Linked DNA regions of Homo sapiens: region 2 is linked to region 1. The links come from fine-mapping of genetic effects on gene expression. A gene starts in region 1. The other region holds a variant in brackets. All regions are shown on one strand. Distances are between the middles of the regions.

Region 1 (5,515 bases):
GGGAGTGGCTGCCCTTCTGTGTGAAAGGCTGAAGCCACAGCCACACAGCTCCTCCCAGGGCAGGCCTGGTCACATTCCTTCATTTGCCTGTGGCCTGAATTACCCCACATACTTTCTAGTCTCCCTTCTCACCCACAGCCTAGGAAAGTCCCATCTCCAAAGGCAAAATTATCGTGCATTGAGGCAGGGGATGTCCCAGCCACAAGCAGAACTGTCCTCAAGGTGGAGGGGAAACCTGCAGGCTGAGGGACAGACCTGGCTTCCACACCCCTCTGCTTGGTTAGGACTGGAGGAGAGCCAGGCAGGTGGAGCCAGGGGTGGAGCCAAGGCAGGCACCCTCCTGTCCCTACCCACCACTGGAGGAGTAGGGACACCCTGAACCTTTGCTCATCTTCATCCTGACTCAGGGAGAGGCAGATCTCAGGAAGGCCTCAAACTCCTGCCAAGCAGAGGCGGGAGCCTGGGAGGCGCCAGCTCTGGGGTTTGATGACCTTACCCGCAGCTCTTTGTCTGAGACCTGTCTAACAGCACTCCTCGGAGGGCCTGGCTTCTCCTGGCTCCGCCTCTCCTGCCCAGCTGCTGGGACTGGGGTGTGATATCCCTGGAGCCTGGCCCTGTCACTGCCCTCCTCTTTCCCGCAACCCAGGAAAGAAGAGTAGGGTAAGGGGCAGGAATAGCTCAACCTCTGAACCTGTAAGGGGACAGAGACTCCACAGCCTAGGTGTCTTCCCTCCTGCCCCACCAGGTCACTTTTGGGGCACAGCCTGGACTCACCAGCACAGGGTATCCTCGGGGATAGAGTCTGCCAGCAGTGCTCTGAGCAGAGGCTCGATGCCGGCCCCCATAAGTCTCAATGCGGGAGGCCACGAGTCCTTGGAGGGGGCCCTCATGTGGAGGACCAAAGGCCTTCATCCCTTCTCTCCTGGGTCACCTCCAAAGGGCCATATCTTCAATGTCCAGGAGAAAGAGGTCCCCTAGGGCTGCAAGAGAGAAAAGAGGAATGGAAGGGCCATCCCCAATCAGTGAATGGCACCAGGCGGGAGACCAAGGCTGGTAGGGGGCCTGGGAGGGAGGGTATAGTGGGGGAGGAGAGGGCCAAGGGCTTGGTCACTTGTTGGGGGGAACATGGCTGCCTCATCTATGACTTGGTGGGAGTAGGGTAGGTCCAGGTACATATTGGGTAGGAAGCCCCTTGGAGATGTACCTCCTCTCTCACATGTGTGCATATTTGGGGTACAAGCTCCTGCACTGGTCTCAAATGGGAACAAGGGTCACAGACAGGTCTCGGGCTTTCTGGATACACCCAGGTGGGAGGGTTCTCCTTGCACCTAGATATAACCCCATCCCCTTCCCCATATAAAGCTTGGGAAAAAGCTGGAGGGAGGCCATGGTGGGTGGGGTGGGCTGGGAGTGGGGGTGGCTGGAGACAGCCCAGTCTGCCACCAGTTTTTGTACAGCCTGTAAGCCTTTACATATTTACATAGTTGAAACAACTGCTGCCCCCCCTGCAAAAAAGCCACCAATATTTTGGGACAAGTAAATATTACATGATATTCAAATTCAGTGTCCATAAACACAGTTTTGTTGGAATCCATCCTCTTCTGCTGGTCTCCTAATAACCTGTGACTGCTTCTTGCTAGTTGGGACAGACGGTGTAGGCCGCGAAGTCTCTAATCTTTACTGTCTGGCCTTTACTGAAAGGCTTGCCCATCTCCTACCTGAACCCTCCTGACCACAGACAGGGAGGTGAGTGGGGCCAGCTGTCCGGCCACTGCCCTTAGAGACCAGCCAAATAGAATTAGAGTTTCTCCAGTTTCGGGCTATATATTTGGTCCTCCCCAGACTCTGGGAATACCACCATGGAGCTGGGGGCCAGGCGTGGGGCTCCATCCCTCCCCCCTAAACCTGGAGGGAGGGCCCGCCCTCGAGTGGGCAGGGCCTGGAAGAGGAGAGGCCTCCTAAGGGGCGGTGGGCTCAAGAAGGCTGCGCAGGTGTTTGTGCCCCGACCGGGTGGGCCTGAGGTCCTGCCTCAGCCCTCCCTTACCTTCCTCCGATTCAGGAGCAGAGGAGGAAACGTTCGCTGTCCCTCCTGCCGCCTCCCAATAGTCCTCCCTCTGAGGGCGCTGTCTCCCTCGCACTGCTCCCTACCCAGGGTCCTGTCTCAGCCCAGCCCCCGGCTCCCCTCCTCCCGCCTTCGGGAGGCCAGGCCTTCCTTCCCCTTCGCCCCGGCTTCCAGGCCCCGGGTCCCGGCCGCCCCGCCCCCGGGCCGCGTAGCCCTCCCGCCGCTCACCTGTGCCCACAGGTGTCACCGCACCCGCTGCCCTGCGCCGCCCTCCCCGCCCGCGGGGCTCCCCGTCGCCGTCGGCTCCCCGGCGATGCCAGCCAGCCCCGATGCCCAGCCTGGGACTGGGATCGAGCGGCCCGCGGGAGCCGGGCAGCGCGGGTCCGGGCGAGGAGGGCGGGGACCGGGCTGGCCCCTCCCTACCGCCAGCACCGCTCGGGGCAGAGGGGCAGAGGGGCGGGGCCCTGGGGACCGAGCAGCCCCCGCCCTCACGCAGCCACCGCCTTCCCCGGAGAGGACAGCTCACGTGGCGGTGCCCTCCTTTCCCCTTTTCGGTCGCACCTGAACTCGACACCCGCCGGCCGAGCGGGAGGGCTGGGACCGCGCGCCCTCCACTCCGGGCCAGACCCCCGCGAGGCGCTGCAGTAATGAGGGCTGAGTAAGGGGCGGGGCGCCGCCGGGGGAGGCGGCGAGGGTGACAACCTGTGGCAGGCACCCCTCTCTCCTGCTGGTCGCGGCGAGTGGCCGGCCGTCCGGTCCTCCCCCTGCCTCGGCCTAGACCCCTAAGCAGGCAGGGAGCCCGCCTGCCAGCTGGAGGGGCAGGGGGCCCCGTCGCTGTGTGGAGTCCAAAGTGTGAGCCTTATCTCTCAGAGGACCGGCTGGCCTGCCTGGTGGAAGGTGATACTGGAAGGCTATCCTGGACTTTGCCTTTGCTCCAGGGATAGGCAGCTGAGGCCTGACCCGCACTTCTCCTATGACCTAAGACTCAGGTGGGGGCACCCTCCCAGTTCACCTGCAAATAAGCCCACTCCCGGCTACACCAGGGTCACCCAGCCCTTGCGGTGGCTGCTAAAATAGATGCTGTGGGGCCAGGCGCGATGGCTCACGCCTGTAATCCCAACACTTTGGGAGGCCGAGGCGGGCGGATCACAAGGTCGGGAGATGGAGACCAGCCTGGCCAATATGGTGAAACCCCGACTCTACTAAAAATACAAAAATTAGCTGGGCATGGTGACGGGCGCCTGTAGTCCCAGCTACTTGGGAGGCTGAGGCGGGAGAATCGCTTGAACCTGGGAGGTGGAGGTTGCAGTGAGCCAAGACAGCACTACTGCACTCCAGCCTGGGCAACAGAGTGAAACTCCATCTCAAAAAAAAAAAAAAAAAAAAAGAAAGAAAAAGAAAAAGATGCTGTGGAAGGACTGACACATGCTGGGCATTGCATGAAAGGACCATACTTTATTTTCTTTATTTTTAAAATTTATTTTTTAAAAAGAAAATAGAGACAATATCTTGCTGTGTGGCCCAGGATGGACTCCAACTCCTGGGTTCAAGCGATCCTCCTGCTTCGGTTTCCCCACCTTTTCACTTCTCCAAATCATGGCACCTCGTCTGACAGAAGCACTGGATATTTGAGATAGAAGTGTCCTGTGGATGTGTGGTCATTATAATCTCACAACCATGAAACCCAAGACCCTGTAGTTGGCAGGTGGCAGGTCTGAGGCTCCCAGCCCCTCACCCTGACTGTGGTCTATTTCCTGCCAATGAACTCAACAGTGATTGATACGGCTCCTTACTTCTTCAGAGCATCCTGAAGTTCAGGAAACACTTTCAGAAGCAGAATCTCCTTGAGTTGCCAGGGGAAAAGGCCTCTATTCCCTTTTCCCATCTAGGCTATGAAACGCATACATGATCAGAGTGTTCTAGTCCTCACTCGGACTCTGGTGACTCTATTTTGTTTGGAGGAGGAATCTATATCTTTGGGCAGTTTCTAATTTTGTATTCCCTGTGTCCATCCTCAAATCTGCCCTCTGGGATTCTCTTTCTCTGAGCTTGCTGTTGTGTGATTGCTCTGCTGGTTCAGAAGTGTCCTCTGTTCCTCCAGCTCCTTGAACCAGCCTGTCTCCTGCTCCTGGCCCAGCTGGTGGTGGGACTAGTTTTCGGGGGTGAAGTCAGGTGGGAAAGGAACTGCAGTGGCAAGAAACCAGAGTGTGCCTAGTTCCTAGCCCTTCCCTCTTCCCATTCACTGTGTGTGTGTGTGTGTGTGTGTGTGTGTGTGTGTGTGTGTGTGTGTGTGTGTGTGGTGAGAGCTAGACAGAGATAGAGAGATGTCCAGGGATGACAAGAGTAGCCATGAGGGAAAGAGTTAATAAGCCAGGAGAGGAGGTGGTGATTACGGACAGTATTAAATGACACCCCAGAGACAGCTGGTGCCAATGGCCCCTAGCTTCTCCTCCCAGTGTCTCCCAGAAGGAGTGGGAAGGAGGAATAAGAGGGAAGATGAAATTGAGAGAGCACCAAAGACAAGCCTGGGCTTACAGTGCTCTGGGGTGAGCTGGCTAGAGGGGCCCAGTGGCAGGTGGTGGTGGGTGGCGGGGTGGTTAACCCTTTCACTTCCCTCTAGGCGTTGAGGTCCAGTCTCCACCCACTACTGCCCCAGGGCCTGTCTTCAGCCTCCCTGGGAGGAGAGGTTCCCAGGGCAAGCTGGAGTCTAGAAGCCAGAGGTGTGGCCGGGCACAGGTGTGTGGCCTAGGAGGCAGGCCTCCATGTTCTGTTTCTTCTCTTCTGTCACTCTCACAGTCTCCACTTCCATGACTCCTCTGTGCTGCGGAGAGCACACTCCTATGGCAGGCTGAGGGGAGCATTCTCAGGGAGCTGAATGAAATGTAAAGAATTGGGAGGCTGGAGGCTTGGCCTCTGCCAAGTGAGGCTAGGGGCCATCTGGTCCTTGGACCAGAGTATGCCATCTGGATACTTCTCTTTATTCCTGGTTATCCTAGCCTTTCCTCACATGTCTAGCTTGAGTCATATGCCTCACTTTCTCCCAGGTAAGATGCTCCTCATTAGGCCCCTGGATTGACCCCATAACTGATGGTAAAGTGTGTGTCCACGGTCAGAGCTCTGAGGATCAAATGCTTCTGTCCAATAGCAGCCTGAGGATAACTGCCTGGGGTTGGCATAAGGGGCTCACCAGGCAGGAAGGTCAGGGAAACTCATTTGTGCCTCGACCTCTGCTGAGCCCATATCTCTCAGGGCAGAAGTGGGGACCATCTGGGCTAATGAGGGGCTGGCAGGCACTAGCAACAGGAGGCAGCTAATGGGAGCTGTGTCCTCCCTGCCCAGAGCGAGGCAGAAACTGAGGGTTCAAGCTAGGAGGCGCCAGGTCATGTGAGGCAGATGAATACCAGGAGGACAGGCCACAGGGCAAAGCCTCTGGTGCCTCAGGCCAGAACTGGT
Region 2 (5,000 bases), 240 kb after region 1:
TAGGTGAGAGGTTCCGTTTTGTTTTTTTTCATGAGGCAGGATCTTTATTCACATAGAAATGGATCTGCTTTAACTTCTGGATTTTTTTTTTTTTTTTTTTTTGAGACAGAGTTTCACTCAGTCGCCCAGGCTGGGGTGCAGTGGCGTGATCTCAGCTCACTGCAACCTCTGCCTCCTGGGTTCAAGCAATTCTCCTGCCTCAGCCTCCCGAGTAGCTGGGATTACAGGCACCTGCCACCACACCCGGCTAATTTTTTGTATTTTTAGTAGAGACGGGGTTTCACCATGTTGGCCAGGCTGGTCTCGAACTCCTGACCTTGGGTGCTCCGCCTGTCTCAGCCTCCCAAAGTGCTGGGATTATAGGCATGAGCCATGACGGCCCGGCCTGGATGCTCTTTTTTTTTTAAATGCAGTTTTAGGAATCACCTGCCTTTCATTCATTCCCCAAACTTCCAGTGCCCATCTCCATCTAGTGGTGGGCCCGCTGTTCGTCAGGAGCTGCCTGTTGCTGACTGATGGGGAATATCCTAGTGTCCCATCCTGGGTGGAGGATGGGTGAGCGTGTTCGCATGGCCCATAGTTCTGGCTGACGTTCTAGCTCCCGTGGCTAACGGCTACCTGGCAGCTCACCCACCCATTTTCCTGTGTTTGTGGCTCTGTTGCTCAGTTGTACCGAGGAGATAAGCTCATATAATATTTAGACTTCTGATTTGCGAGAAACTTGGGAACACAAGTCAGTGAAGGTCAGAGAAGGAAATCAGATGAGACGATTAGATGCTGGCCCTGAAAGTTTTCCTTTCGAATATTTGCACATTTCTCGTTGACCCTTCTTTTCCTGGGTATTGTTAAAGAAGACAGAAGTCCATTTTCTTGCTTAGATAAGAGTGCTCTGAGAAAACACAGAAAGGCAGGGGGAAGAATTCCCACCCATTTTTACTGCCCTGGGGTCAAGACATTTGACACAAATGACCATATTACTGTGTTTGTAGAATGATGATAATTTCTGAAAAATGGTCAGTTCAAAAAGGCTTTCCTGAGACCTCACTGGACTTGAAATTACAGCACATCCAGAATGGGCTGGGACGATCCTGGCCCCTATCTTGTGGCCTGCTCTGTCCTCCACGAACAGTCACTCCTCACTCCCGCTCTTCTAGAGGGGGCAGCGGAGAAGGTGGGCCATGCTGATGGGAGTGATCTGGGGCCTTTCCACTTTCTCCTAATTTCCTCTGGGCTGGATGTGCCCTCCTGACCCATGCTGTCCTGGAAGGGATCCACTGTCCTGGGGACCAGGCAGAGGGATGTGTACATCCCTGAGGCACCTCATCCTTAATCCTGCCTTCATACACATCTCAAAGGCAGGCCCACACCTGGGTCCAGTACTGCACAGTCTAGCCTGGCCCCTGGCTGGGCCTGTCAGGGCACATGCGAGCATGAAGTGCCAGACAGTGAGGGCCTGTGGAGCTTGTCCTTGACAAGCTAGAATCTCTCTGTGCCTTTTGGGGACCCCTTGGCTGTGTGACAGGGCTAGCATTAGCCCCTGGAGCTGGGCCCACATAGGATGGTCTGTAGGACCCTCTTACATTTGTCTTTCCAACGTTGGTCTAGCATCTGTTCCCCAAAGGGGGAACTTCAGGTGGAGGCTGAGGTAGCGCTGTAGACAGCCAAGCTTCCGCTGTTTGGAGGGTCTCAGGGGAAGCCCTGTGCACTCTATGTGTCCTCATCTTTGCTTTGATCCTTAGAGAAAGGAACTCACACATGCACCGTAGAGTGACTGGGTGGGAAAAGTCTTCCTCCTTCACCAAATGGCAATGGTGTCTCTCTCTATATATATTTCTTTTTCTGTAGAGTAGATAGCAAAGATGAGAGCAGGTGGAGGAAATATATAGGGCAGGTTGGGAAGGGATCCAGATGCCCTTTTCAGCTTTGATGGGTCCATGTTTGGCCCTGAAGATGGGATTGCCTCAAGCCAGGCAGGTTGATGGAGAATCACTGGAGACATTGGCAGAGGCCTCCCCCTGCCAGGACACCTTCCAGGATGTGTGATCTCAGTTTGGAGGTGCATTGGGCCACAAGTATGGGGCCTAGGCTGGGGCGTGGGGGAGATGGTGTGGGAATTAGGGTGGGGACAAGCTGAGGGCTTTGGGTTGCAGGGTGATGAAGGGGAGTCCTAGTCCCCACCCACAGATGTGTCAGCCTGGGCTGGGAAGCTGGCGCTGCCGAGGTCAGCACTGCCTGGGTGGTGGTGAGATCATGGGCAGATGGCCTCCTGGTTCCCCATTGGCCCTGGCTGGAGTCACAGCGTGGGCTTGCCCCTCTGAGGACGCAGAAAGCAATGGCCTTAGAGTTGCCCCTCTGCTGGTGAGGAGGATGGAGTCCCCATTTTCACTGCTGAGCTCCAAGACTGTCCTGCCTCACCCTCCCACCTCATCCTGCCTCTGGGCTGCCTACTCTGCCCCCTGGCCTCCAGGGACTCTCCAGGGGTGACACTGTTTCCCAGAGCCTCTCCACACTCAGGTTCAGAGAACCCTGTGCTATTGGGCAGCCTCCCCCTGGCCAGGCATTCCGCTGGCACCAGTCTGAGGCTGGTGTGGCCCTGATGCCAGCAGGTAGCGTGGGACATGGCAGTGAGCTGTGAGGGAGGAGGGGAGGCTGCAGGGAGCCTGGAAGCAGGAGCGTGGGTTCCTGCGTGGTTCCACCACTGACTGAGTGTGGCTCTGTCACCTTCCTTAGTTGCCCCATCTGTAAAATGAGGCCTTGACCTGAATGACCCAGCTCTGACATCTTGCAGTTTTAGGAGCAGGAACCGAATTTTCTCGTAGAACTTGTTTTTAGACTGGTTTGGGCAAAGGACGTCCATGCAGTTTTGGGGAAGGGCACCCTGCTTGCATATGCATTCCACCTTGGCCACCCCAGGGGAAGTGCCCTCACCTCCCATTCTTCTCCCTTCCTCTGTGTCTCTCCAGGGGAGTGCCTTGTCAC[A/T]GGTCAATCACACTTCAAGAGCTTTGACAACAGATACTTCACCTTCAGTGGGATCTGCCAGTACCTGCTGGCCCGGGATTGCCAGGACCACTCCTTCTCCATTGTCATTGAGACTGTCCAGGTGAGCTTTGCCAGCCCGGCTGCTGGTCGGGTGGTAGCCCAAGGTGCTGCATAGCTGCTAGGCTGAATGGGCAGTCCCTGGAAGGCGTGGGGCATTGCTTTCTGTGCATGAGGGAGGTCTCTTCCAGACTTCAGTTAGCTCCTCATTCATCCAGAAACCCAGCCCATCCCCTCTCTCCCTAGATGCTGGCGGAAGGCATCCTGCCCTGACAATAATGCCTCCTCAGGGCTGGCTCAGCTCCCCACCCAGTGGACGCATCCTGCTTGGGTCTAGCCTGTTGCCCCCATAACTAACCCTCTGATGTTTGGAGCTGGGGATGGCTGGGGTGGGGGCAAAGAGGGCTGGTCTTCTCTTCTGAACTCTGTGGTACATGTGTGGCTTCCTTTCTGTAGGGATGGAAGCAAAGATGAGGACGAAGAGAATGCACAGGGCTTTCCTTGAGGATCAAAGTCTTTGATTCTCTTTGGAACAGTAGGTCCAAGGAACACGATGAAGCAGAGGCCCATGGTTCTTTATAAGAGACTGGGCCAGGCTGGGAGAAGGCGTGTGCAAGGATGCACTTAGCAAGCCTTCTTGCTGCACAACTCTAGGGGGCCCCATTCACATGGAGTATTCTGGGAGAATGGAGTTGTAGGTTATGAGAAGGCCAGAGGCTCTCGGGTTGAGGCCTTTCTCTGATTAAGAGGGTCCTGGGCTGGGGAGCTGGATAGGCAGGGGGTGCAGCAAAGTCACCCTGTGTTCCCTCTTGGCAGTGTGCTGATGACCGCGACGCTGTGTGCACCCGCTCCGTCACCGTCCGGCTGCCTGGCCTGCACAACAGCCTTGTGAAACTGAAGCATGGGGCAGGAGTTGCCATGGATGGCCAGGACGTCCAGCTCCCCCTCCTGAAAGGTATGCTTCGTCCTGCTCCATCAGGCCTGGGGCTGGCACAGCCCATCCCTTAGCACCCTCCTTCTCAACCCTGGCCACTGTCCTTAAGGACCTGCATGCCTCTTCCATGGGAATGTGATGGAGAGTTATTTTTGGAGGGCAGGGTGGGGTGCTTGGCATGCATCCCTCCAAGAAAGGAAGGCTTCCTGGAGGAGGAAGACTAGAGAAGGAAGCCTATAGATGAAGAGGTTGCTCTAGACCTGGGACAGAGTGTAGATGGGAAAAGGGAACCGAGAGGATTTTTATTTGGCTTGAACCAAAGGGGCGAGTTGAGTCTTGGGCAGGTGGTTCTGGTTTGCTCTGGGGTGGGACAGGGGCAGAGGCTGATGCTGAGAGATCGGGGGTGGCTGGTGATGTCACACCAGAGGATGCCACTTGGGGCGAGGCCAGGTGACCCTCTGGCCTGTCTAGAGGTAGCAAAAAACCTACCTGTCCAGTATCTTCACCTGGGTTGCACTGTGCCGGTCAAAGCAAACCTGCTTTTGCATGGTAAAGCTCCCAAACTTCACACTCAAAGTGGCTCTCAGACTCTTCCTTCTTCTCCACAACTGCTGGCCACTTTGTCGCCCATTATCCTAGCATTGCACACAGCGGATGAACTTGGGCTAGTGGGTACCCAGCACGTCCATGGGTGTTATGCTGTGTGTCTCCTTATAAGATATGTTTGTTCCCCCAGGGCAAGGGGTGTGCTCCTATCTGTCGCCACCTTCCCACAGAAGCAACAATTGCTGTATTCAGTGTCGTACACAGCATCGCTCAGACATGAGGTGGTGTGCAGTGGCAGAGTGTCCCAGGCACATTCAGATGTCGTGGTGTCAATGCTAAAGAGATCCCCCTCTGCTCCAGGGCACCTGCCTACAGCCCAGGATGCAGGAGCCTCTGCCTCCCTCCTGTGGCAGTAGGGGGAATGGCAGGTCATAGCGGGGGGTGCAGAGGCTTCTTCCTGGGGGACCCTATTTGCGCTCTGTCC

The links. PIP is the estimated chance that this variant, and not a neighbour inherited with it, causes the effect. A credible set is the group of variants that fine-mapping cannot tell apart.
Region 2: its variant is the best candidate, but not a certain one, in a credible set for the expression of PLEKHG6 in esophagus mucosa (GTEx, PIP 0.62).

Annotation. Positions count from the first base shown.
Region 1 is chr12:6,307,624-6,313,138 of GRCh38, reverse strand. It overlaps PLEKHG6 (pleckstrin homology and RhoGEF domain containing G6), which reads right to left and starts at 2,457. Exons shown (of 16, transcript NM_001384598.1): 1 at 2,291-2,457; 2 at 775-980. The coding sequence starts at 912. RefSeq lists enhancers at 1-301, 2,923-3,643 and a silencer at 2,511-2,560.
Region 2 is chr12:6,063,237-6,068,236 of GRCh38, reverse strand. VWF (von Willebrand factor) reads left to right here. Exons shown (of 52, transcript NM_000552.5): 11 at 2,964-3,100; 12 at 3,853-3,991. Among named protein-coding and RNA genes, the nearest start is that of SNORA120, 26 kb to the right of the region's middle. The variant A/T (reference allele first, on the strand shown) is at 2,980.